Linked DNA regions of Homo sapiens. The protein of the gene in region 1 purifies or fractionates together with the protein of each later gene. This does not show direct contact. Each region holds a gene or a part of one and is shown in the gene's direction. Other genes may lie near its edges.

The links.
Region 2: the proteins of SLC25A41 (region 1) and FCHO2 purify together in Homo sapiens (affinity purification with mass spectrometry; 3 studies listed by BioGRID and IntAct, with this or other methods). This does not show direct contact.
Region 3: the proteins of SLC25A41 (region 1) and EPN1 purify together in Homo sapiens (affinity purification with mass spectrometry; 3 studies listed by BioGRID and IntAct, with this or other methods). This does not show direct contact.
Region 4: the proteins of SLC25A41 (region 1) and NSUN4 purify together in Homo sapiens (affinity purification with mass spectrometry; 3 studies listed by BioGRID and IntAct, with this or other methods). This does not show direct contact.
Region 5: the proteins of SLC25A41 (region 1) and RFTN1 purify together in Homo sapiens (affinity purification with mass spectrometry; 3 studies listed by BioGRID and IntAct, with this or other methods). This does not show direct contact.
Region 6: the proteins of SLC25A41 (region 1) and NCS1 purify together in Homo sapiens (affinity purification with mass spectrometry; 3 studies listed by BioGRID and IntAct, with this or other methods). This does not show direct contact.
Region 7: the proteins of SLC25A41 (region 1) and GNAZ purify together in Homo sapiens (affinity purification with mass spectrometry; 3 studies listed by BioGRID and IntAct, with this or other methods). This does not show direct contact.

The regions. Positions count from the first base shown.
Region 1 is NC_000019.10:6,428,151-6,430,763, reverse strand, and holds part of SLC25A41 (mitochondrial carrier protein SCaMC-3L), read left to right. Parts: intron 1-145; exon of another isoform or gene 146-243; intron 244-602; coding exon 603-755; intron 756-932; coding exon 933-1,040; intron 1,041-2,613. UniProt on the Homo sapiens protein: Calcium-independent ATP-Mg/Pi exchanger that catalyzes the electroneutral exchange of Mg-ATP or free ADP against an hydrogenphosphate and participates in the net transport of adenine nucleotides across the mitochondria inner membrane.
Region 2 is NC_000005.10:72,959,041-72,962,540, forward strand, and holds part of FCHO2 (F-BAR domain only protein 2), read left to right. Parts: intron 1-3,500. UniProt on the Homo sapiens protein: Functions in an early step of clathrin-mediated endocytosis. Has both a membrane binding/bending activity and the ability to recruit proteins essential to the formation of functional clathrin-coated pits.
Region 3 is NC_000019.10:55,685,226-55,688,725, forward strand, and holds part of EPN1 (epsin-1), read left to right. Parts: intron 1-170; coding exon 171-420; intron 421-3,500. UniProt on the Homo sapiens protein: Binds to membranes enriched in phosphatidylinositol 4,5-bisphosphate (PtdIns(4,5)P2). Modifies membrane curvature and facilitates the formation of clathrin-coated invaginations. Regulates receptor-mediated endocytosis.
Region 4 is NC_000001.11:46,350,807-46,354,306, forward strand, and holds part of NSUN4 (5-cytosine rRNA methyltransferase NSUN4), read left to right. Parts: intron 1-2,061; coding exon 2,062-2,222; intron 2,223-3,500. UniProt on the Homo sapiens protein: Mitochondrial RNA cytosine C(5)-methyltransferase that methylates cytosine to 5-methylcytosine (m5C) in various RNAs, such as rRNAs, mRNAs and some long non-coding RNAs (lncRNAs).
Region 5 is NC_000003.12:16,381,200-16,384,699, reverse strand, and holds part of RFTN1 (raftlin), read left to right. Parts: intron 1-3,500. UniProt on the Homo sapiens protein: Involved in protein trafficking via association with clathrin and AP2 complex.
Region 6 is NC_000009.12:130,175,404-130,178,903, forward strand, and holds part of NCS1 (neuronal calcium sensor 1), read left to right. Parts: intron 1-3,500. UniProt on the Homo sapiens protein: Neuronal calcium sensor, regulator of G protein-coupled receptor phosphorylation in a calcium dependent manner. Directly regulates GRK1 (RHOK), but not GRK2 to GRK5. Can substitute for calmodulin. Stimulates PI4KB kinase activity.
Region 7 is NC_000022.11:23,098,019-23,101,518, forward strand, and holds part of GNAZ (guanine nucleotide-binding protein G(z) subunit alpha), read left to right. Parts: intron 1-593; coding exon of another isoform or gene 594-794; exon of another isoform or gene 795-3,500. UniProt on the Homo sapiens protein: Guanine nucleotide-binding proteins (G proteins) are involved as modulators or transducers in various transmembrane signaling systems.

The DNA.
Region 1 (2,613 bases):
GTAATCCCAGCAATTTGGGGGGCCAAGGTGGGCAGATCACCTGAGGTCAGGAGTTCCAGACCAGCCTGGCCAACATGGCAAACCCCCAGCTCTACTAAAAATACAAAAATAAGCCAGGCGTGGTGACACTAGCCTGTAATCCCAGCTACTCGGGAGGCTGAGGCAGGAGAATCGCCTGAACCTGGGAGGCGGAGGTTGCAGTGAGCCGAGATCCCCCGACCGCACTCCAGCCTGGGCGACAGAGTGAGACTCCGTCAAAAAAAAAAAAAAAGAAGGAAGGGAGGAACGGAGGAAGGGAGGGAGGGAGGGAACAAAAAGGGAGAAAGAAAGGAAAGGATGGAAGGAAGAAAGAGAGAGAGAAAAAGACTGAGGAGATGAAGAGGAGGGGTGAGGTGGGAATGTAGGTTGATGTTGGCTTTGGGTCAGGGTTGCATGCGATTCTAGAACTGGCCGGGGAAGGAGCTGAAGAAGGAATGGGGATGGGATGGGGATGGGTTGGGGTTGGGTGGCTTGGGAGGTCCCGGTGGGGCTGCGCTTGGGGCAGGGATGGGGACGGAGACAGAGGCGAGCAGGGGCTCCTCCAGGGTCCTCCCTCCACCCAGGTCTACTCCTCCAAGACGAACTTCACCAACCTGCTGGGGGGGCTACAGAGCATGGTCCAGGAGGGCGGCTTCCGCTCCCTGTGGCGGGGCAACGGCATCAACGTGCTCAAGATTGCTCCTGAGTATGCCATCAAGTTCTCCGTATTCGAGCAGGTGGGGAATGAGGGGCCTGCTTCCCCCAGCTCAAGCCCAAACCCCTCCCATGCCCCCAAAACTCCAGGCCCTTGTTCAAGCACACACTCACCCTCCAGACCCCAGGCCTCTTCCCTGCGCGGGTTTTGTGTCGGAGGGTGGCTGACTTCTCTCTCACCCTCCTCTCTCCTCTCCCAGTGCAAGAATTACTTCTGTGGAATACAAGGGTCCCCGCCCTTCCAGGAGCGTCTCCTTGCTGGCTCCCTGGCTGTGGCCATCTCCCAGACCCTCATCAACCCCATGGAGGTAAGAGAGCATGTGCCCCGCAGGTGAGGAAACGCCGTGGAAACTAGTTACCCACGTTGCTGGGGCTACTTCCTCTTCCTCCTTTCTCCCCTCCTCCTTTCTCCTCCTTTTTTCTCACACTTCTCCCTCCTCCCCGTTCACCTCTTCCTCCTCTGTCTCCCCTCCTCCTTTCTCCCTCCTCCTCTTTCCTCCTCCTTTCTCCTTCCTCCTCTCCTCCTCCTCCTTTCTCCCTCCTCCTCCCCTCCTCTTTCCTCTCCTCCTCCCCTCCTTTCTTCCTCCTCCTTCCCTCCTCCTTTCTCCCTTCTCCTCCCCTCTTCCTTTCTCCCTTCTCCTCCCCTCTTCCTTTCCTTTCTCCCTCCTCCTTTCTCCCTCCTCTCCCTCTTCCCCCTTTACCTCTTTCTCCTCCTCTCCAATCTCCTCCTCCTTTCTATAAATTTATATATGAATATATTATATATAACACATATACATATATATAACATTTTCATAAATTTATATATGTATATATTATATACAACATATATATTATATATATAACATATATATATTATATATATATTATATATATAATATATATATTATATATATATATAACATATATATAATATATATATTATATATATATGTAACATATATATAATATATATATTATATATATATATAACATATATATAATATATATATTATATATATATATATAAATTTTCAGGCCAGACACCTTGGCTCATGCCTGTAATCCCAACACTTTGGGAGACTGAGCTGGGAGGACTGCTTGCTTGAGCCCAGGAGTTTGAGACCAGCCTGGGCAATATAGCAAGACCCCATCTTTACTGAAAACAAAAATCAGCCAGGTGTGGTGGCGCATGCCTGTAGTCCCAGCTACTCAGGAGGCTGAGGTGGGAGGAGCACTTGAGCCCAGAAGGTCGAAGCTGCAGTGAGCTATGATGGGACACAACTGCACTCCAGCCTGGGTGATAGAGGGAGACCCTGTCTCAAAAAAAATATATATATATATATGTTTTATATATAATATACACATATATTATATACCTTACTTATTATGTAAATATATAGTACATATAACATGTATATATTATATATAACTAAATAATTTAATGTATCTAATTATATAATTACATTTATTATATACTATGTAATATAAAAATATGTCTATGCATGTTATATATAATATATGCATAATGTATAATAATACATATATAATATGTATATATACTATATATATGTATACATATATATTTTCATTTCTCATCTGTGGACCGGAAACCCTCCTTTTTTTCTTTCTTTTTCTTTTTTTTTTTTTTGAGAGTCTCACTCTGTCACCCAGGCTGGAGTGCAGTGGCACGATCTTGACTCACTGCTCACTGCGACCTCCACCTTCTGGGTTCAAGCGATTCTCCTGCTGGGATTACAGCTGCCTGCCACCACACCCAGCTAATTTTTGTATTTTTAGTAGAGACAGGGTTTCGCCATGTTGCCCAGGATGGTCTCAAACTCCTGACCTCAAGTGTTCCACCCACCTTGGCCTCCCAAAGTGCTGGGATTACAGGCATGA
Region 2 (3,500 bases), on another chromosome or scaffold:
CTCCAAATCTAATTTATGTTTTAGTTTTTGCCTTCACTTTCACTATTGAAAACAAATAGTTAATAGACTGCATTTTATTTTATTTCCTGGCTTGGAATTGGGGCTGTGAGGAGGCTCAGTGAGCTAGGAAGGTCTAGGAATTAACTAAATAATTAACTTCCGAGAATTTATAGTTGTCATTTTAGGCTGGGCATGGTGGTTCACTCCTGTAATCCCAGCACTTTGGGAGGCTGAGGCAGGGGAATGGATTGAGCCCAAGAATTGGAGACCAGCCTGGGCAACACAGTAGACCTTGTCTCTACAAAAAATTTTAAAAAATTAGCCAAGTGTGGTGGCATATGCCTGTAGTCCCAGCTACTTGGAAGGCTAAGGTAGGAGGATTGCTTGAGCCCAGGAGTTCAAGGTTGCAGTAGGTTATGATTGGTCACTGTACTCCAGCCTGGGCAACAGAGTGAGACCCTGTCTCAAAAACAGAAAACTAAAAATTCACATATTTCAGGATCATTTATAAAATAATCCCTTAAAATAGATATTAATTTAACTCTTCCCTCTAGCATTTAAAGTGGAACTATTAAAAGGAAATAAAATTGTCAAAATTCAAAACATCGTGCTCTATATGATAAATATATATGTTTTTCATCAATTAAAAGATAAAAACTTGTCAAAGTGAGGTAGTGAGAACCTTTGATGTTTTAGGTCTGTCTTGTCTTGTCTTCTCTTCTCTCTCTTCTCTTCTTTCTTTTTTTTTTTTTTTTCTGAATTGCAGTCTCACCGTGTTGCCTGGGCTGGCACGCAGTGGCACGAGCATGGCTCGCTGCAGCTTCAACCACCCAAGCTCAAATGATCCTCCCACCTCAGCCTTCCAAGTAGGTGCGACCACAGGTACAGGCCACCATGACCAGCTGGTTTTTAAATTATTTGTGGAGATGAGATCTCGCTATGTTGCCCAGGCTGGTCTCGAACTCCTGGGCTCAAGCCATGTTTCCGCCTCAGCTTCCCAAAGTGCTGGGATTAAAAGGCTGAGCCACTGTGCCCAGCCAAAGTTTTAGGTTTCTAATCAAACAACCTATTAATTGTTTTCTCCCCTACATGTATAAAGACAAACCTTTTTTGTTGTGACATTTCATTAGAAGAAAGTTTGAATCGTTGAAACTCTCTTCAAGCTCTTTTGAAAGCAGCACATTCTTCCTTTTTCTTTAAAGTATAGGTTTTCTCAATTGAAACTATATGCTAAATTGAAAATTCCTTTACTTAATACTGTACTTTGAAGGAAAAATTATTCAAAACCTTTTACAGAACAGGTGTTTTGTTATTGATAAGTCAGTTTTTGCCACGAAGTATAGCACCATTGATAATCAAGCTGAAATTGGACAGCAAAATTAAAATTGGACGCAAAAATAATTTTACTAGTAGAAATTCACACCATTGCTTTTAATATGTAAAAACAATTGTTTTTTATCTTTATTTTTACATATTAAACATTATGTAACTTTAAAAAGATATTATAAAAGATTATGTAACTTTAAAAAGATATTGATCAGTATTACAGTGAGGAAGTGTCTAAGCCGCTGCTTTCTCAAAGGAATAATTGAGTACAAGTTTATAATAGTCTTGAGATTATAACAACATTGCTATGTAATAATTAAAATGGCATTATATTTTTATGTAAACCCAGATTATTCAGCAAAAAAACCTTAATGCATTTCATAGGTAATTATTAATGGGGGACAAATAAGTATGTAAAACATACCTGAGTTGAATAGCTTATAATCTTCATTTTACAGAGTAATCCCAATCTATATACGATATGAAGCATTCACCCAAAGACACTAAGTAGTATTCTTTAGTATATATCACATTGTAATGAGCTGAGATTTTTAGTTAGGTGACTTTTTCCAGAGGTTATCTATAGTCAGCACATAAAAAATGAACAAACAACAATTAGGTATTTTTATCCTGAAGTTTTTCCTTATTTCTTTTACTGATTAACTGTACAGAAGTCTCATTTCACTTGATTTTATTGGTTTTGTTACATTTTGATTTAAAATTAAATTGAAACATTGGTTATATACCCAAAATTTGATTTATCATTACTTGGATAAGCTAAGAGAATTAAAATGTATTTTAAAATTCTGGAATTGCTATTAATAGGTCTTTGGGATAAAAAACATTATTATATTTTTGCTTGATTAATCTAAACTTAGTATCCTAGATGAGAGACTAACACACATTCTTTGGGGTTATGTATCCATATGAAATTTTAAAATATATATCTTTAGCAAATTAGTTTAGGTGACCATATTTGAAACCCAGAATAAAGGCTTTTCATTACTTGAAATTTCCAAATATTGTAGTTTGGGATACCTGTTTTTAGGATATGATCCCATCAGATGACATACCAAAACAAAATCTATATATCTGTATATATTTACTTTATACATTAAGAGATTTGCAAATTTTACATGGTTTAATATTTAAAAGGTATAAGAGGGAGTAAATCTTCTTTTTCTCTGGTAATCAAGATGTCCCTAAAGGCAATCACCATTACCAATTTCTTTCTTTTTTTTTTTTGAGACGGAGTTTCGCTCTTGTTGCCCAGGCTGGAGTGCAATGGCGCGATCTCAGCTCGCTGCAACCTCTGCCTCCCAGGTTCAAGCAATTCTCCTGCCTTAGCCTCCCTGGTAGCTGGGATTACCGGCATGCACCACCATGCCTGGCTAATTTTGTATTTTTAGTAGAGATGGGGATTCTCCATGTTGAGGCTGGTCTCGAACTCCTGACCTCAGGTGATCCGCCTGCCTCGGCCTCCCAAAGTGCTGGGATTACAGGCATGAGCCACCATGCCCGGCTTCACCATTACCAATTTCTTATATGGTTTTCCACAGATGAGACCAAATAACATACACTCCACTAGGTTAAAATTATTATTGTATAACTTTTAGCAAGTTAGCCAGGCCCAACTTGTTCCCATTGCAACAAGCTGTGAAAATGAAGACTACAGATTCATTTAACTTGATGCAGAAGACTTGACAGTAGACATTATAAAATTATAGTGTTTTAGATTGCACTAAAATTTGAGAGGCCCTTAGAATTTTTTAAGGGGTGTGATTTGTTTTATTTTTTAACCTTAATTATAGGAGAAATTTGGAAGTGAAAATTGGTACTGATTTAGTGTGTATATATGTTCAGTTCAGGGGGAGGATTTTAGAACTTTGACATTTGAAAGGATATAAATTTGATGTCTGCGTTCTTTTTTAGCTCTACACACTAAATCCTAAATGCTGTAGTCCTTTCAGAACTACTTAAATTATTTAAGCAAAGGATGAGGGAACAGTTATGCTTTAAATCATCCTGCACATGTGGCTAATATAAGCCCTTTGAAAGTAGTTTTTTGAGTCACTGAGGTATCTCCTGAGATTATCCATCCTGATGTCATAATTCTAGAATAGTTAACGGAAGCACCCTTAGAAATTCAAATGGAAATAGGATCCCATGGAAAC
Region 3 (3,500 bases), about 49 Mb from region 1:
TTTGCATGGCCGTGTCGTATTCTGTGGGGACAGATGTGTGTCCACCCACTGGCGACAGGTGGGTTGTGGGCCTTGCGCCCAGTCGGCCGCCCCAGAGCCCGCGTCGCAGGCAGTCTCTGGCCCGCCTTGTGCCCGGCGTGCTGACCGGGCATCCCCGTGCCCGCTCGCAGGCCATGACGCTGATGGAGTACCTCATCAAGACCGGCTCGGAGCGCGTGTCGCAGCAGTGCAAGGAGAACATGTACGCCGTGCAGACGCTGAAGGACTTCCAGTACGTGGACCGCGACGGCAAGGACCAGGGCGTGAACGTGCGTGAGAAAGCTAAGCAGCTGGTGGCCCTGCTGCGCGACGAGGACCGGCTGCGGGAAGAGCGGGCGCACGCGCTCAAGACCAAGGAAAAGCTGGCACAGACCGCCACGGGTGAGTCCCTCCCTGCGGCCCCTGACGGCCTAGAGTCTGTCCTCCGCCTACTGCGGCTCCCGGCACCCGGCCGCCCACTGCTTTCTCTCCCAGCCAGGAGGGACCGCGGCATCCCCCTTTGCTTCTCCTCACCTGGGCCCCTTGCTCTGGTCTCACTTGGGCCCTTTTTTTCCCTTAGCACCTCCCATGCAGCAGCTCTGGGACCCTTCCTGCCTCTTGCCTCGTGCCCCAGGGCAGGCCTAGAATTGGGAACTTTTATTCCGCTCCCCCATAGGCTCAGGGCCTGAGGGTGATCAGTGCTGGGGACAGGGCTCTGAGGGGACACGCACAGTGACCCCCGAGGGTGCTGTCCTTCTCTCTGCGCTGAGATGAGGGGAACATCGGAGAGGCAGAGGGGGGCCTGGAAGAGGCACAGAAGGAAGGCCAGAGCCAGGGCCTGCAGGTTGCACCAGGCATCTGGGCCTGTGTTAGGAGCCTTGACAGTGCCTTCTGGAGGTGGAGGACTCAGTCTGGTGGGTGGTGACCAGCACCGAAAACAAAACTTGAAATAGTGCATCCCACATCGTCAAGCCAAGATCTGTCCCACGAAACATTTCCAGTTATGTGATGGGTGTGTGGGTCTCGGACTGTTCCAGGAAGTGTGGTCTGTGTTGGTCGGGGGCTCACAGCCGTGAAGAGGCTAGTCCGGCTGCTCAGGACTGGGAGGGAGGCTGGAGAATGTCTGCCAGGCTCTTCTGCTCTCCAGGAAGAGTGGAGGTGCCTCAGTTAGTGGGGATACGTGGGATGGGGAGGGGCTGCTAGAGCACTGCCCTGGAGGTGGAGGTGGGTCAGCCAGGCCGGTGCAGACAGGAGGAAGGGCCTGTGGCCCTCGTGGGGTCCGGCTCGAGGGACTGGACTTGTTTGGGGAAGTCTAGGCCTTCTGTTTGGACGGGTCTCATTTGGGATCACCTTTCAGCACCCACGGGGAGACATGGGTGTGACGGGGTGTGTGCGACCCTGCCTGGGACTCCAGAGTAGGGACCCACGAGCCAGTAGATGGGCGTGAACGCAGAGAGAGAGTGAAGTGGAGGGAAGGAAGCCGGTGTGGCGTGGGAGTGCTCAGAGCCAGGGACAACAGGAGGGAGTGTAGGCGGCAGAGAGGGGCTGGTCAGCTCGAGGCAGGCAGGCAGGCAGGTGGGTGGCGGGGTTGGGGTGGACGGAGGAGGGACATTGGCAGTAGCTCGGAGGAGAGTGGGAGCCTCAGGTAAGAGGCCTGAGGGTGGGACATCCTGGCTCGGGGGTCGTCAGACTTTGTGCAAGGCCAGAGCTAATGTCCTCTGCGTTGCTGGCCACGCCTTCCCATCCTAGCTGCCTGGCCCCGTCCGCTGGCGGTTGCTGGGAAGCAGCTGCACCCCTCCGACACTCACCAAGGTCTCCGAAATTTGAATTTTATGTAGTTTTCACGTGTCTTTTTTAAGACTTTTAAGTTGTTATTTAATTTTTTAAGGGTACTCTGAATTTTCGCCCATCTTGGTGCATTCTTTTCATTTCTTCCAACCATTGAAAAATGTAAAGGCCTTTCTTAGACCTTCTCAGGCCAGCTGTGGCTGCCACTGTGGTGTGCTGGCCCCTGTCTTGGAGTGAGTTGTGTGGAGGGCTGTGGCTGGGGAGGAGGATGGGGGCAGCTAGGGAGTGAGCCCTGAGACCCTCAGTGGGCAGGGAAGGGCCTGTGGTCCCCGGGCAGCACCGAGGCTGGGTGCTCTGGTGATGGGAAGGCCCGGGTGTTGCTGGCTGGGTGCCAGTATTACCTGTGATGTGGGAGGTGGGGCCCTCAGGGCTGCTGGGCATTGGATTTAGCCACCACCAGGCTGGGGGGTTAGGGGCATGTGCAAGGTAGAGGTTGGGCAATGGGGTGTAGATTCCCAGCACTCACCTCTGAGAGTCCCTAGAGCTTAGGAGGAAGTCACAGGGGCAGGGAAGAGCAGGAGGGGCCACAGGGGTGTGGTCCTCCCTGTGCGCTGGCCTCACCTGTGCCCCACGCTGCCCTTCCATCTGCCCATCCCCTCAGAAGGCCGCTTACCCACCCAAGTCCGTCAATCCCTGCTGGTTCTCTCGTCCTTTCCTCACTCATAACCCCAGATGGTCACCCTTCGGCCCCGCTCTGCCACCCACATGCTCCCTGGAGCATCCCATGCACCCAGCCCTGCTGGGCACACCACACGGGGGCCAGCCTGGGGGCCCCTGGACCCGGTGCAGGTGGGGCCGCCAGACAGCTGCCTGCTGCGGCTCCGGGCAAGGGGAGCCAGGGCCTGCTCGTCAGGGAGAGGCCTGGGCCTGGGGAGTGGGTTGGGTGGGGACACAAGTACAGGACACAGGTGCAAGGCGGCGTCTTGGAGCTGGAGCAGACAGAACTTGCTGACCAGTGCACAGTGGTTGGGAGGGCGGGGCAGGAGAGGCAGGGTCCGCCCTGGGGCTTTGGAGGCTGGGGCAATGGCCCTGTGCTCGGCGGGCCTAGGGCCTGGTTGGAGCCTGTCCTCTGCACTGTGGAGGGGGGCAAGGGTCCACAGGCCTTGGGGGTGGAGAGAACAGTGTCAGGACAGAGTTTGAGGGTAGGCGGGGTTGCTGAGAGGATGCTGCAGTGGAGGCCGGGGATATCTCAGCAGCCTCCTGGAGGGTCCGGCCCTGCCTTCCTGTGTCCTCTCTCTCCCTTCCCCTCCTGCTCTTGGAACCAAGGGCTCCTCGCTAGCCCACTCCCTAACCCCGACTAGGCCTTGGATCCCGCTGTCTCAATGGATGCTGTTCTCCCCTCTGAATTCCAGTTGTTCCCTGCCAGAGCTACCATTCTCAACAAGCCCTGGAAACAGGCCTGGGAAACCTGGGAGGAAGGACCTCCCATCCCCCAGGGGCCCAGGGACAGACCCCAGGCACGCGGAGAGTCCTGGTGGTGGCAGGGCTCAGAGGTTGCTGGGGTTCCCCACCTGCTTATCAGACTGACTTTTGCTCTGGTCCTTCCCTGATGCCTGGCCCCTCCCGTGGGTGGGGCTGCCTGCATCCCCACCCTTCCTCCTCTGAGCACCTGGCGTCTGGTCTCCGCCTCTCAG
Region 4 (3,500 bases), on another chromosome or scaffold:
GTGTCAGCCTTAGCCTCCCTCCCTTTAAGAGGGAGAAGATATGTAACTAGTAAAGCTCTAAGGCAAGGCCTCATGGTCCAGAATGACTGCTGGAAGTCCAGCCATCACATCCATATTTGAGTCAAGAGGAAAGGATTGGGCAAAAGAGACTCATTTCATCTCCCAATTATGTCAGCCTTTTAAAAATATCTTCCCAGAATTCCTATCCAATACTTATGCCTACAACTATGACCAAAAGTTAGTCATATAGTCATACTTAGTTGTAAAAGAAAGGCTTAGCCGGGTGTGGTGGCTCACACCTGTAATCCCAGCACTTTGGGAGGCCGACGCAGGCAGATCACCTGAGGTCGGGAGTTCAAGACCAGCCTGACCAACATGGAGAAACCCCGTCTCTACTAAAAATACAAAATTTGCCGGCGTGGTGGCGCATGCCTGTAATCCCAGCTACTCGGGAGGCTGAGGCAGGAGAATCGCTTGAACCCGGGAGGCGGAGGTTATGGTAAGCCGAGATCGCGCCATTGCACTCTAGCCTGGGCAACAAGAGCGAAACTAAAGAAAGGTTGAGAAATGTAGTCTTTTGGGGCAATTTTCCCCTTCCAAAAAATTGGGGTTCTATTAATAAGGAGGAAGAGGAGAATGATTTTGGCTAAATAAACTGTAGTATCTACCAAAGATGAAGAGAGCCATAGGTTTCCAGAATAGTGGGAGAGCATATTTTTTTAGAAATAAATATTCTTGGCTGGGCATGGTGGCCCACACCCATCATCCCAGCACTTTGGGAGGCTGAGGTGGGAGAATTGCTTGAGGCCAGGAATTCAAGACCTACCTGGGCAACATAGTGAGACCCAGTCTCTTTTTTTTTTTTTTTTTTTTTTTGAGATGGAGCCTTGCTCTGTCGCCCAGGCTGGAATGCAGTGGCGCCATCTCGGCTCACTGCAAGCTCTGCCTCCCGGGTTCACGCCTTTCCCCTGCCTCAGCCTCCCGAGTAGCTGGGACTACAGGTACCCACCCCCATGCCCGGCTAATTTTTTGTATTTTTAGTAGAGACGGGGTTTCACCATGTTAGCCAGGATGGTCTCGATCTCCTGACCTTGTGATCCGCCTGCCTTGTCCTCCCAAAGTGCTGGGATTACAGGTGTGAGCCACCGTGCCTGGCCTTCCAGTCTCTTTTTAAAAAATTATTTAAATATATTTTTATTTTTGTAGAAATGAGGTATCGCTATGTTGCCCAGGCTGGTCTTGAACTCCTGGGCTGAAGCAATCCACCTACTTTGGCGTCCTCCCAAAGTGCTGGGATGAGAGGCGTGAGCCACTATGCCCAGACTCAGAGACCCTGTCTTTAAAAAAAAAAAAAAAGAATGTGGCTGGGTGCAGTGGCTCACACCTGTAATCCTAGCACTTTGGGAGGCCAAGGCAGGCGGGATCACCTGAGGTCAGGAGTTCAAGACCAGCCTGGCCAACATGGTGAAATGCTGTCTCTACTAAAAATGCAAAAATTAGCCGGGTATAGTGGTGCACACCCATAGTCCCAGCTACTCAGGAGGCTAAGGCATGATAATCACTTGAACCCAGGAGGTGGAGGTTGCAGTGAGCTGAGAGTGTGCCACTGAACTCCAGCCTGGGCGACAGAATGAGACTCTGTCTTAAAAAAAAAACAAAAGGAAAGAGAGGGAGAGAAAGAAAAGGAGAGAAAGGAAAGGGAGGAAAGGGGAGAGGGAAAGGAGAGAAGAAAGGCGAAAGTAATGGGGAAAGGAAAAGGGGAAAGGGGAAAGAAAGGGGAGAAAGGGGAGAGAGGACAGGAAAGGAGAAAGGAAAGGAGTCTTACTTGGTCTGCTTTATTCATTGACTTAAATAACTTTGATACTTTCTGGCCCATTTAGGTGTTTGCCATTGTACCCCCACTCAGAATGACTGATGCTGTGCCATGCACATAATAAATGTTCCTGATGCTGGGGTTTGCATTGGCTGGGACTACCTGAGAATTGGTCTGACTCCATCAGCGCCATTGCTGGTGGAATGTTTCATTGGGTCATGGCCTCTGAAGTATCTTTATTTCCATAGGCAATCTTGCTGCCAATGATCTCTCCCCGTCCCGAATAGCCAGACTACAGAAGATCCTTCACAGCTATGTGCCTGAAGAGATCAGGGATGGAAATCAAGTTCGAGTTACCTCATGGGATGGCAGGAAATGGGGAGAACTGGAGGGGGACACCTATGACCGGGTGAGTGATTCTTGATTTAGGACATGCATCCAGCTTAATGCGGCCTCCCCATCCTGGTTCTAGGGCCTGAGGGGTTAGGATCCAGCCCCTATGTTTGAGCATGTAGAGCTGTTTCTGGACTGGCCAGTTCTACATTGGTGATTTGACCAAAAGAAAAATCAGCTTAGATGACTGGTTATTATCTCTATTAAAGATAGTTGGCAGCAAAAAAGAATTTGAAACTATTTGAGTAGGGGAAAAATTTACTAGGCTTACTTTATTTCTCAAGTCACTTGGTTGCTCAGAAAGCCTCATGAAGGTAAGTAAGAATAAGCTCATTTATTTATTTTTGAATGTTAGTACAGCACATGGTACAAAATTCAGAAGGCACAAAAGAGTATCCAATGAAAAGTGAGTTTTTCTCATCTGGCCTGTAGCCCCCTACTTCCCCACCCTATAGATAACGATTGTTTCTTTTTTTTTTTTGAGACGGAGTTTCGCTTTTGTTGCCCAGGCTGGAGTGCAATGGCGCGATCTCTGCTCACTGCAGCCTCCGCCTCCTGGGTTCAAGCAATTCTCTGCCTCAGCCTCCCGAGTAGCTGGGATTACAAGCGCCCACCACCACGCCCGGCTAATTTTTGTATTTTTTTTAGTAGAGACGGGGCTTCACCATCTTGGCCAGGCTGGTCTTGACCTCCTGACCTCGTGATCCACCCGCCTCGGCCTCCCAAAGTGCTAGGATTACAGGCGTGAGCCACTGCGCCCAGCCGGTAGTATATTATATTATACTCACTATTCTGAACTTTGTATTTTTTTATTTAATAATGTGTCCTGGGGTTAAATCCTTTTTTAATTTTGTTGACATTGTGGAAGTATAGTTGTTGAATAACAGTTTACATCCATTTAAGATTTTGATAGCGATTGCTAAATTTCTCTGTGGAGGTTAAACCAGTTTCACTCCTACTGGTAATGAATGAGTACTGATTTCCCACATGCTGCCAATATTGGTGCTATCAAACTTAATTTTTTTGCCAAATGGATAGTATCTAATTTACAATCTCTTATTAATCATGTTGAAAATCTCCATATTAATTTTTTTAAAGTTTTTTTTTTTTGAGTGGCAGGTTTTCACTTTGTCACCCAGGCTGGAGTACAGTGGTGTGAACACGGCTCACTGCAGCCTCAACCTCCTGGGCTCAAGGGGTCCTCCTGCCTCAGTTTCCCGAGTAGCTGGGACTAGAGTGTGCCACCATGCCCAGCAAATGATTTTTTGTAGAGACGGGGTCTCACTATGTTGCC
Region 5 (3,500 bases), on another chromosome or scaffold:
TCTATTTTTTAGCAGTAGGTTTCTGATTCCCAGCATTAATTAGCTCATTAGTTACAGGCATTTCATTAAGTTTATTATGTAACTTGTAGAAAATAAATCCATCAGTTATAGATACAACCTCCCTTACCTGGTGTGTAGCAGCTCTCCTCAAAGCACAATGGGGGAAATTTCCTTTACCTGGGCAACAGTGATGGCTGAAAGCCTCCCTGCCACACTTCAGCCTCTCACGTAGGACCTGGAATCGATACCAGATGAAGTCCTAGTTGTCTTGTTTCTGTTTGGGGCTCACTGTCATTTGGGAGCCTGTACCGAACTTTTATTTCATGCCTAGTCAGGTTTAGATTTAGAGACCTCCATCAACTTGCCCTGTGCTATCTTATTTTCCCCTACCTCCTGGTGGGAAGAGAGAAAATTGATTATTTTAAGGAACTGGCTCATGTGATAGTGGGGGCCAACAAGTCTGACATCTGCAGGGCAGTCCAGCAGACTGGACATTCAGGTAAGGACTGGTGTTGCAGTCTTTGAGTTTGAAGGGGAGAAAACCCAGGGAGAATTTCTGTGTTGCAGTCCAGAGGCAGAATTCTTTTTCCTTTGGGAAATCTCAGTCTTGGCTCTTAAAGCCTTCACCTGATTAGATGAGACCCACCTAATAATGGAGGAATCCACTTTACCGAAAGTCAACTGATAGTAAATGTTAATCACACATTTAAAAAATACCTTTACAGCAACATCTAGACTAGAGTTTTACCAAACAATTGGTCACCATAGTTCAGTCAAGTGGACATAAAATTAACTGTGACACCATCCTCCTTAGAGTCAGACAAAACAGTCTTGGAAGTGTCTCTGACTCTTTACCCATGCTATCTACTACAGGCTGTGGACACTCCAATCCCTATTGACCTGTGAGCAGGAGGCTTTTCTCTTCCTTTTCCTATGTTCCATATAGCCTTCATTTTTATGAAATCCAACCTGTGTCTCACTTCTTTCTGATTTCTCACCCCGATTGATACACATACTCTAAATCACAAATACGTATATTCGCATGCACATAGAGTATATATCGCACTTATCATTAGCAACATGGTATTCATTTTGGACATAGAAACAGACAATCCATCCTAGAAATCTAATGTCATATTATTTTTAATAAAAATAATTCCTCAAATATATAACCAAAGATTTTTTTTACAATGACTTGTGACTTTTTATATAACTACATTTTTTTAAAAAGAAATATTTTTCACATCATGATTCCTGATTATAGTTACAGTGGAGCATGTCCTTACTTATTATAGAGCAACTGAGTGAAGTTGTGGATTAGTCAAAACAGCCATGTTTAATTTTCAGTGCCTCAACCAGAAATTGTTACTCTTTAAGTATTTGGGGCAGGTGGGTTCTTACAGGCAGCAGAAATGAGAATAAGGTGGGTGAGGGTGTATATCAGTTTAAACAGGCATCCACCTGGGCATCTTGGCACAGGTCAGATTATCTGAAGTGGAAAGAGTGGTATCGTTGAAGAGGCATCAGGTTGGGCTTAGGATACTCAGAGCGAAAGCCAGGCATGGCTTTGGGTAGTTCTGTGAGGTTTGACCAGTCACAGAATGTCTTAAGCAGTTTTCTCTTCTGTAAGGTATGATTTTGAGGCCTAAGGGAATGCATGTGAAAGTTCTTTGTAGAAGAGCTGTGCAATGTTAATAGTTGCTGTTTCCTGTAATCGCTGTTGTTAGAGATGTTGTGGGCATGCGTGGGAGTCTGTGGGGAGCTCCATGGCTGAGGTGACCTGGCTCCTCATGACCTGTTCTTCCATGTTGATTTGGTTCCATGCTCATGAAGACCCTGGCATCGCCTGAGGTCATGGTGATGTCCAGCAACAGATGATGAGGGCTTGAAATAAAGTGAGCTTGGATGGTCACTTTATGGAGAAGGAGGAAGTAATTCCAGAAACACTGGGGGATAAATGTGGTAGGGTGTGGTGAACAGACACACAGGATTAGAAACAGGGAAGAAGATACTGTGATTCCAGCTGGTGAGACCAGATCAACAGTGGACCCGTCAGCTGTGATCGTCTTCTGTGTAGGTCTGAACTTGCAAGGAAAGCCAGGGCTAGGGGTTCACACTTAGGAATAATGAACATCTGATTTGTAGCTAAACCCATGTGAGTAGAGGAAGTCACCAAGGGGAGTGTAGAGTGGAGGAGAGCTGGCAGCCGGGGATGAACCCTGATGAATACATCGCATGCCCACCACCATGATGAATGTGAGACTGGCTCAGTAAAGGTTATAAATGCAAGAATGAGAAGCAGGATTTACTTTAGCCATAAGTACACGGTCAAATGACTTTCTGAAAAAGAGGAAAGTGTCTATACTAGGGTAAGACAGAACTGTAAGAGTCGTGGCCCCTAGATCTAGCCAAATATTGATCTTCATAAAATCTAAATGTGGTCGTCTAGTTAAAAAGGACTACGCACCCTTTTTGGTAAACAACTTGGCAGCCTCTGCCAAGCCTTTGAAAAGTTAATATCCCTTCATTCATTAATTCTACTTCCAGGAATCTATTTGAAGGAAATAAGCAGAGCTACAAATATGCTTCCTCTTCTTGGGGGTGTGAATTTCCCTGGAATGCATAGGATAAGGGCAGCATTTAACTTTGACATCTTTTTAAAGTTTGGATCCTAGGTAGCACTATGGTATAAGATACAAAATTTGTGCTGAAGTTGAAGGTAAAAGATGAGCATTCGAAGAAATCTTGCAGTTTTCCCTCAGACTCCCACTCTCCTCTGCTCTTGAGGTTATGACTGTGGTGGGAGAGTCGGATATGCTGGCCTGCAGGGTGAACTGAGAGCCTTTGCGGGCATGGATCCAAGGCCATATGTGATCCGGTCCTTGTCATGTCTAGTCAAGCTTCATTTCTGGGCTCCTCTTGGTTTCTCATGTCATGTTCCAGAAATATTTCTAGAAATTTCCTCAACACACCAGGCTGTTGCATACTGTCACGCTTTTGCCCATCATGATCCTTCCTTGCCTTTACATGGATTGCCCTCTCCTTTTCCTTTACATATGTGCTGAACTCTTATTCATCCTTCAAAGCCTTCTGCAGAGTAGGTCCCAAATAGGTTTTGTCTAGCATGGCATTTTGGAAAAAAAAAATTGGATTTGAATGCTTTAAGGTGAGGCATGCATGCTCCAGTTCTGCCACATTTCTTATTCTTCCTTTTGTGTTACACCACGTCATTTGTTACATCCCTGATCTACTCGGAGAAACTTTTCTCAACCTCCCCTTCAGGCAGAAATAATCACCATTGTCACTGTCATGTCTATGCCTTCACATCCATTACTATATTATCCTCTATGAGGAATTTTTACAATATTTACTTTTTCAATTCTAAAAGTAACATCCATGCCCCTTAAGTAAATTTTGAAAATTACACAGTAATAGAAAAAAATCACTTATAGCCCCACTCCCCAAATACAGTGCTGTTTTCATTTTGGTGACTGTTTTTA
Region 6 (3,500 bases), on another chromosome or scaffold:
ACATGAAGGTACCTGGGCTGCCCTCCCGGATTTCCGATTCTTTAGGTCTGGCTGGGGCCCAGGAATTTGCATCCTTGACACGTGTTTGTGCTGCAGATGGTGGTCCTGGGGAGCCCGGATTGAAGACCACAGTTCCAGTGTATGCTGGGGGTCCTAGCCCACCTCATGCATAGCTGGCCACAGTGCCAAGGGGGCCTAGAGGGGAGCCATGGGTCCACGTCCGAGTCGGTGCTGGGCAGTGTCCTTGGTGGGCGTCTCTGGCTCTGTCTGTGGTGGTCTGTGTGTGTGAGGAAGCAGGAGTGTCTAAAGGCCCCAGCAGTGTGGCCCTCACTGGACACACTGGGATTCCACCTGGCTCAAACCCTAACCCAGTCCTCAGCCTTCCACCAGCAACAGGTTAGGGAGAGATGGACAGGGTCACTCTGCAGCCAAGACTTAGACAGTGGCAGTCAGCATTGCGGGCGGCCCAGTTTCTTTCAGGTCTGGCCCACTCTCTTCCAACCTGCTGGTGAGGCTGTTGGCTTCCCCGTGTGTCCCGGCTGTGGGATGGGCCGGTCCCCTCACCTACCTGAGCCTCAGTTTCCTCATCTGCAAAATAGGTGTGCTCATGGCACCTGAACTCAGAGGATGTGAGAAGTCAACAGGGTAACTCATGTGCAGTGTGGGGCCTGATATGTGGCGTGGGGTATGTGGTCAGTAAATGCCAGTGATCGTAATTAATGCTTATTTGTTCATTTTCTTTCTTTCTTTCTTTCTTTCTTTCTTTCTTTCTTTCTTTCTTTCTTTCTTTCTTTTTTTTTTTTTTTGGAGACAGGGTCTGGCTGTGTTGCCCTGACTGGAGTGCAATGGTGCAATCATGGCTCACTTAAACCTTGACCTCCTGGGTCCAAGCAATCCTCCTGCCTCAGCCTCCCCAGTAGCTGGGACCATGGGTGTACAACACCACACCTGGCTAATTAAAAACATTTTTTTTGTAGAGTTAGGGTCTTGCCCTTTTGCCTGGGCTGGTCTCAAACTCTTGGCCTCAAGCAATCCTCCTGCCTTGGCTTCCCAAAGTTCTGGGATCACAGGCCTGAGCCACCGCACCCGGCCTTAATATATATCATTTTGACCATACAATACAGCTTCATCTTGAACTGGGCTTATGTGTATTTTGTGGGCAAATTTCTTCTCTCCACAGAGGAATCTTGCTGACTCTGGTCTTTGTGCCTGGCACACAGAAGGTGACATCTATGACTGCTGTGCCTGAATCCCAGCAGGGGCCTGCTCTTACGTGTAGCGGCCTCCGCAGCCCCACTTGTGAATTGTGAAGCTGCCCTGGCCTGTTCATTAAGTGCTCACTGTGTGCCAGGCATGGAGACAGAGGAGTGGACCAGAGAGATGGAATCCCTGGCCTCAGGAGGAAAGCAGCCGGGTTATCCGAAAACTCCAGCATGGGGGTGCAAGCCATTTGTGGTGGTCTGAGCTGCATCCCCTTAAAGGCTTCTGAGGCCACTGCAGGCCCAAGCCAGCCAGGCCCAAGAGGCACAACCTCTGCCCTCCTCCCTTCTCCTTCTCCTCCCCATGATGTTTGCGGTCCTTCCCAGGGACCCTCGGTCTGGGACTCAGGGGTGGCCACCTCCTCCCTGTTGCCTTTGGTCAGCCCAGGCTCTGCCTTGACCTTGCCTGCCAACCTTGACTCTCCTCTGCCTTTTCCCTAATGCCCAGAATGGTGCCGGCACACAGGAGCAGGTGGAGGGCAGGAGCCCACGGCTGACGCCTCTGTGACCCCGAGCAGAGGACGGGTCCCTGGCTCCAGGTTGGGGTCAGCAGTTGGGTTCTTGGGTGTCTCTGGTTGTGGACTGTCCTGGGGCCCATGAGGGCCCCTTCCTCTAGGGTGAGGAATATTCTCTGATCATCACTCCCCACCCAACTCTGCTCAACCAGGGTGGGCCAAGCTGCTGCCTTCAGGAGGCAGTCACTGGAGACCATCTTGGGACAAAGCTGGGGGTTGTGTGATGGCTGCGTGGGGACATGGAGGGCCCACAGCCAGGCACAGGGTGAGCCACAAGGAGAGGAAAGGACCAAAGCAAGGGAGGGGCTTCGGCCGTCCCTGTACATCCCGTGTGCGTGGGCATGAACCAAGGAGGCCTTTCCTTTCTCTGACAGTGGAGCAGAGCAGCAGCAGGAGAGACTGAGGTGGACTCTCGGCATCGGGATGGGCATCTGGGCAAGAAACATCACCTGTGTTATTAGGAGAGGACTCGATCCCCTGCGGTGCGGGGCTGGGTCCTCACTCGGCCTTGGTGACCTTGGGGAAGTCCCTTGGCCTCTCTGAGCACCAGCTTGCTCATCCTTCAGACCTGCCTTCCAACTCCATGGATCTAAACAGGAGAAGCTTTGCAGTCCGGGGAGCGGGCCAGAAAGACAAAGGGGTTGTTTGGCAGGAGAGTCCCTGGGAGGGAAGGAGGGCTCAGGGGCGAGTTCTGCGGTTCTGGCCCCTTCCTTGGGCAAACCTCCTCTCACCGGCTTCACTTTCCGCCTCTGGAAAATGGGCAGTTTTGGAAGGCCTCAGTGTTGAGGAGGATTCGGGGCATATGAAGGGTTTAGCTTGGTGCCTGGTTCTGAGGGGAACCTTTATTTATTTATATTTTTATTTCTATAGAGATGGGATCTCGCTATGTTGGCCAGGCTAGTCTCGAACTCCTGGCCTCAAGTGATCTCCTCCCATCTCGGCCTCCTGAAGTGTTGGGATTACAGGCATGAGCTGCTGCGCCTGGCCATGAGGGGAACCTTTCAAAACTTTCCTGGCAGCAGCTGGTCCTTGGGGTGCAAGTCTTCCGCATCCAGGGCAGGTGGCCTGTGGCCACCCCCTTGTACAGAGAGGGAAGGGGCAGCTGGTGAATGGCAGGGACTCACCCAGGCCCCAGAGCCCAGCCTCCTCCTCACAGGCTCTTTTTGCCCTTTCTGCCTCCTTGGGCTCCAGGTTAAATGGGACCCAGCTTCTCCCTTCCCTACATCACCCCACAGAATTCTCCCATCACCCCGTGTCAGGGGAAAGCCCTTTTCCCCGGCAGAGGCCTTGGGATCGGACCCAGCTCCTGCTGCTCCCAAGGCCTGTCTTAAACCCCTTTGGGGCAAGGCATGGGCAGTGGAGGGGGGTGGTGTCCTGTCGAGTGGGCCGGGCCCATGTCACCCTCTGAGAGGCCACAGGAAGGAATTTGGACATTATTCGAGATCCGTAGGGAGCCGTGGAAGGGAGGTGATGGAGACACATTAGATTTGGGTTTAGAAAAATTGTTGTTGGCTGCAGTCCCGGAATGGACTGGCGGGGAAGAGGGGTGGTAATGAGACCGAAGGTGATCATGGTGATGAACTGGAGTATCGGTGGGGATGACATGAAAGACAGATTCCAGATATATTTAGGAGGAAGACTCAGTAGGACTTGGTTTCCCTCCCCTCCCCTCCCCTCCCCTCCCCTCCCCTCCCCTCCCCTCCCTTCTTTCCCCTCCCCTGCCCTC
Region 7 (3,500 bases), on another chromosome or scaffold:
GGCTTTGGCTGTCATGTTTGCTTTCTGAACTTGTCAGTGAGGAGATGACCCAGGTGTCTTCACAGATGGGCCCAAGGCTAGGCCTTTGCCTGCCTGCAGCCCTCTTGGCTCTTACTGGCCTGTGCCTGCCACCTTGCTGCCTCTCTCTCCTCTCCTTCTGCTCTAGCCGTGGTCAGCTTGTTTTGCTCCAGCAGTACTGCTCTGTCCAGCCTTAAGCTTGTAATGATCCTGATCCCTGCCTCTCGTACCCCTGCCCTTATCCTCCAGGTCTCATCCCAAGTGGCGCCTCCTGGGAGGCCTTTTCTGACCTAGCCCGGCACCTGCTTACTCCTCCATCTAGTGATGTGTGAGTGAGCTCCTCGGGGCAGGCCCTAGATGGGCTGGGTGGCCCCTGTGGGGCCTCACATCTCTAGCTTTCCCTCTCCCAGGCCTGTCCCTGGGGAGAGCCATGGTGGGCAGCCATGGGCAGGGACAGCAGCCACTGGCCTGGTCTCAGGGATCCCTGTGAGGTTCCAGGCATTCAAGGCACTTTCTAAAGGGAGGGGCTGGCAGCCAGGCTGGCACACCCACCACCATCACCCTGGTTTCTGCAGGCCTGGGGAAGTGGTTGTTCACCAGAAAAGGAAATTCTTGATGAGAAACCCAAGCGAGGCTGGAAATTCACTGGATTCCAAATGATTCTGACCTTTCATGCTCTACCAGTAATATCTGGAGATGGAAAACAAACAGGCTGCAGAGGAAAGACAATCCCCTCCCGCGATTCCTCCCGCAGGCTGGGCTGGCCCCGGAGGTGAGCTGGCCCCCAGAGTGGTGCCGGCAGTGAGGACAGCCCGTCTCCAGCCGGGCCAGGGCCAGAGCCAGTGCTGGCACGGGCTGGCACAGGGCTGCCACTCTGCTCTCTCCTTTTGGAACGTGCTGAACTGTCCTCCCTGGGCCCTGTCAAAGGCAAGGCAGCCAAGAACAGGCCATGCTCGTTTTCACAAAAGCCGAATGAACCTTGGGGCCCAGTGCCAGGGCTCTGGACACGGCTCCTCCATAGCCCTCCTTCCGTGCTCAGCTTCCAAGGCCTCATCTTCCCTGATGCTGGCAGTGCCTCCCCACCCCCACGCCTGGCGAAGGAGCCACAGCCCCCCGGCCCACCCGCTGGCTTCTGCGTCAGCACGTTGCCAAGGAGAACGTCAGTGTCTCTGGGCTCCCGGGTGTGAGGGCTGCAGTGAGTGCAGGGCAGCACCTCAGAGCAGGGAAGGCAGATTTCCGGGTGTCTGTGGAGCATGGCAGCGAGCCACATGGGGAGCCACGCCCCTCCATGGCCACGGTTCCCACCCTCGTCCGAAGGAATTGGCAGTCCCTTGCCCTGACTAGGGCCAAGTCCTGCAGGTGTGTCAGGCACCCCAGTGCCCCCAAGCCCAACACCCAGCTGGGGCTTCCTCAGGCAGCACAGGAGGCCTGAACACAGCCCAGCAACACAAGGGGGTTTTTCTGGCGCACCTGTCCCCTGAATGATCCTGTGGGGCAGCAGCGCCTGTTATTTTTGTCACAGATCGAGGCACTGAGGCTCAGGCACACAGCTGGCGCTGGCGGGCCCCCAGCCCTCAAGTCCACAAGGACAGCTCCTGAGAGGCCATGTGTCACAGGACCCACCACGGGCCTCCCACTTAGCCAGAGCCATGGCAGAGGCTCTGCCCCTCGTCTTTAGTACATTCACACAAGGGTCAGTCAGCAAAGACAGTCACTCTGCTGCCCTAGGAGGGAAAGGCAAAGTGGAGAAGCTGGCACCTACCAGCCCACACTGAGGGACAGACACAGGTGGCTGTGACCAGCAGAGCCTGGGTCTTCACTCGGCCCCACTGGAGGCACCTGAGGGGGTAGGTGGGCACTTGTTGCCCAACCTCTGCCCTTGCGGATCAGCTAATGGACTCTGCTGGCCACCAAATGGTGTGGGATCCTTCAGAAGGCAAGATTAAAAGGTCTAGTTGTAAAGCATCAAATGTTCTCATGTGGAAACCCACAGGGAGCTCACTGCCCATTTCCCGACGGAGCTGTCAGCATTCCCAGCCCTGTGGCGGGTCTGTTTTGCACCTGTGATGGACCTGCTGTGCAGGCTCAAGGCTCAGGCTGGGGCCAAGTATGAGGGTGAGCACAACTCTCCCAGCAGCACAGGGAACTGGGGGACAAGGAGGAGGCAGTCACACCAGCCCAGCTACAGCTTCATTTCCACAAAGCCTCTGCTACCAGGGATACCTGCCCTGTCTTTCTAGAGCTGGCAGGCAGCAGTTCCCAGCAGTGTCCCCATTGTGCTTTCATCTAGGACCCACAGTAGTCACTTGGGCCCCACAGGCAGGCTGGGTCACAGCAGGGTTCACCGTGGGAGGCCTGGTGTCTCTGCCACTTATCTGAGAGACAGCTGGTCAACATGTTATCAGTGAGGGTATCCAGGGGACGGGGGACATAAGAACATGCCTTTTGTGGGGCAAGTTCTGCAGGTGGCAAGTGCTTGAGCAGCCAGCCTCCAGGCAGGTGGTCTATGCCTGGCCCTGGATAGTGGTCCCTTGTCCTGGGGCCATTGGCTTCCTGAGGAACCCCTCCCCACTCCAGGGCAGGTCAGCAGCCTCAGCACACCACGAGGGCAGGTCCACACCCACCCGGCACAGCCTGTGCTCTGAGCAGAGGGCCTGGCACACAGTGGGTGCTCTGCAGACTTTGTGGAGCGGGCGGGAGGCGGTAGGCTTGGGAAGAGCTGGAGCTCCAGAGCCCTGGCTTCTGGGTGCAGAGCAGCTGGGACACTCAGCCCTTCCCAAGGAGACCCTATGGGTGCTCGTCCATAACAGGAGTGTATGCAGTACCCTGAGGAGGGGCTGCCCAAGGCCGTCCTGTGAACACAGCGTGTTCCTGCCACCCTAGCGCTGTGGTTTATCATTTAGCCCAAAAAGGGTGCTTGTTTTAGTGCTTTTAAAATGGAGTTTAAACATTTGTGCCATAAAATGGCGTGTTGTGGGTGAAACAAGGTGTTTCCAGTAAGACAGGCTTATACCTATTGATGACAGAGCTGGTTATATTTGCCCAAGGAGGGAATTACAAATGGGCAATAGCCAGACACAGATGATACCCTCTCCCCAGCATACCAGGGCTTAGATTGAGAAGGGACCTTATATATCCTTTAGTGTTCCTAACCAGCCGGCTTTGCAGATGAGGAAACTGAGCCTCAGAGAGGTTCCTTCACATACCGCAGGGCTGAGACTCTGGCTCTCAGGGAGGGTCCTGGCACTGGCCCCTGGGAATTCCAGTGGCCCCCCTCTTCACCATACTGGTCCCACATCCTGTGGGTGCTGGGGTTCTCCAGCAAGGGCCTTGGGGGTATAGACTGGGTTCCACCCTTGGAGCTGCTGTGTAGCCAGCCTTCCCTCAGGAGAGTGGAGGACAGTGACACCTGGGCTTGGGAGAGGTGAGTGGCTGTGAAGGTTGACACTCCCCTCGTCCCCTTGTCTCCTGGCCTAGTCAGT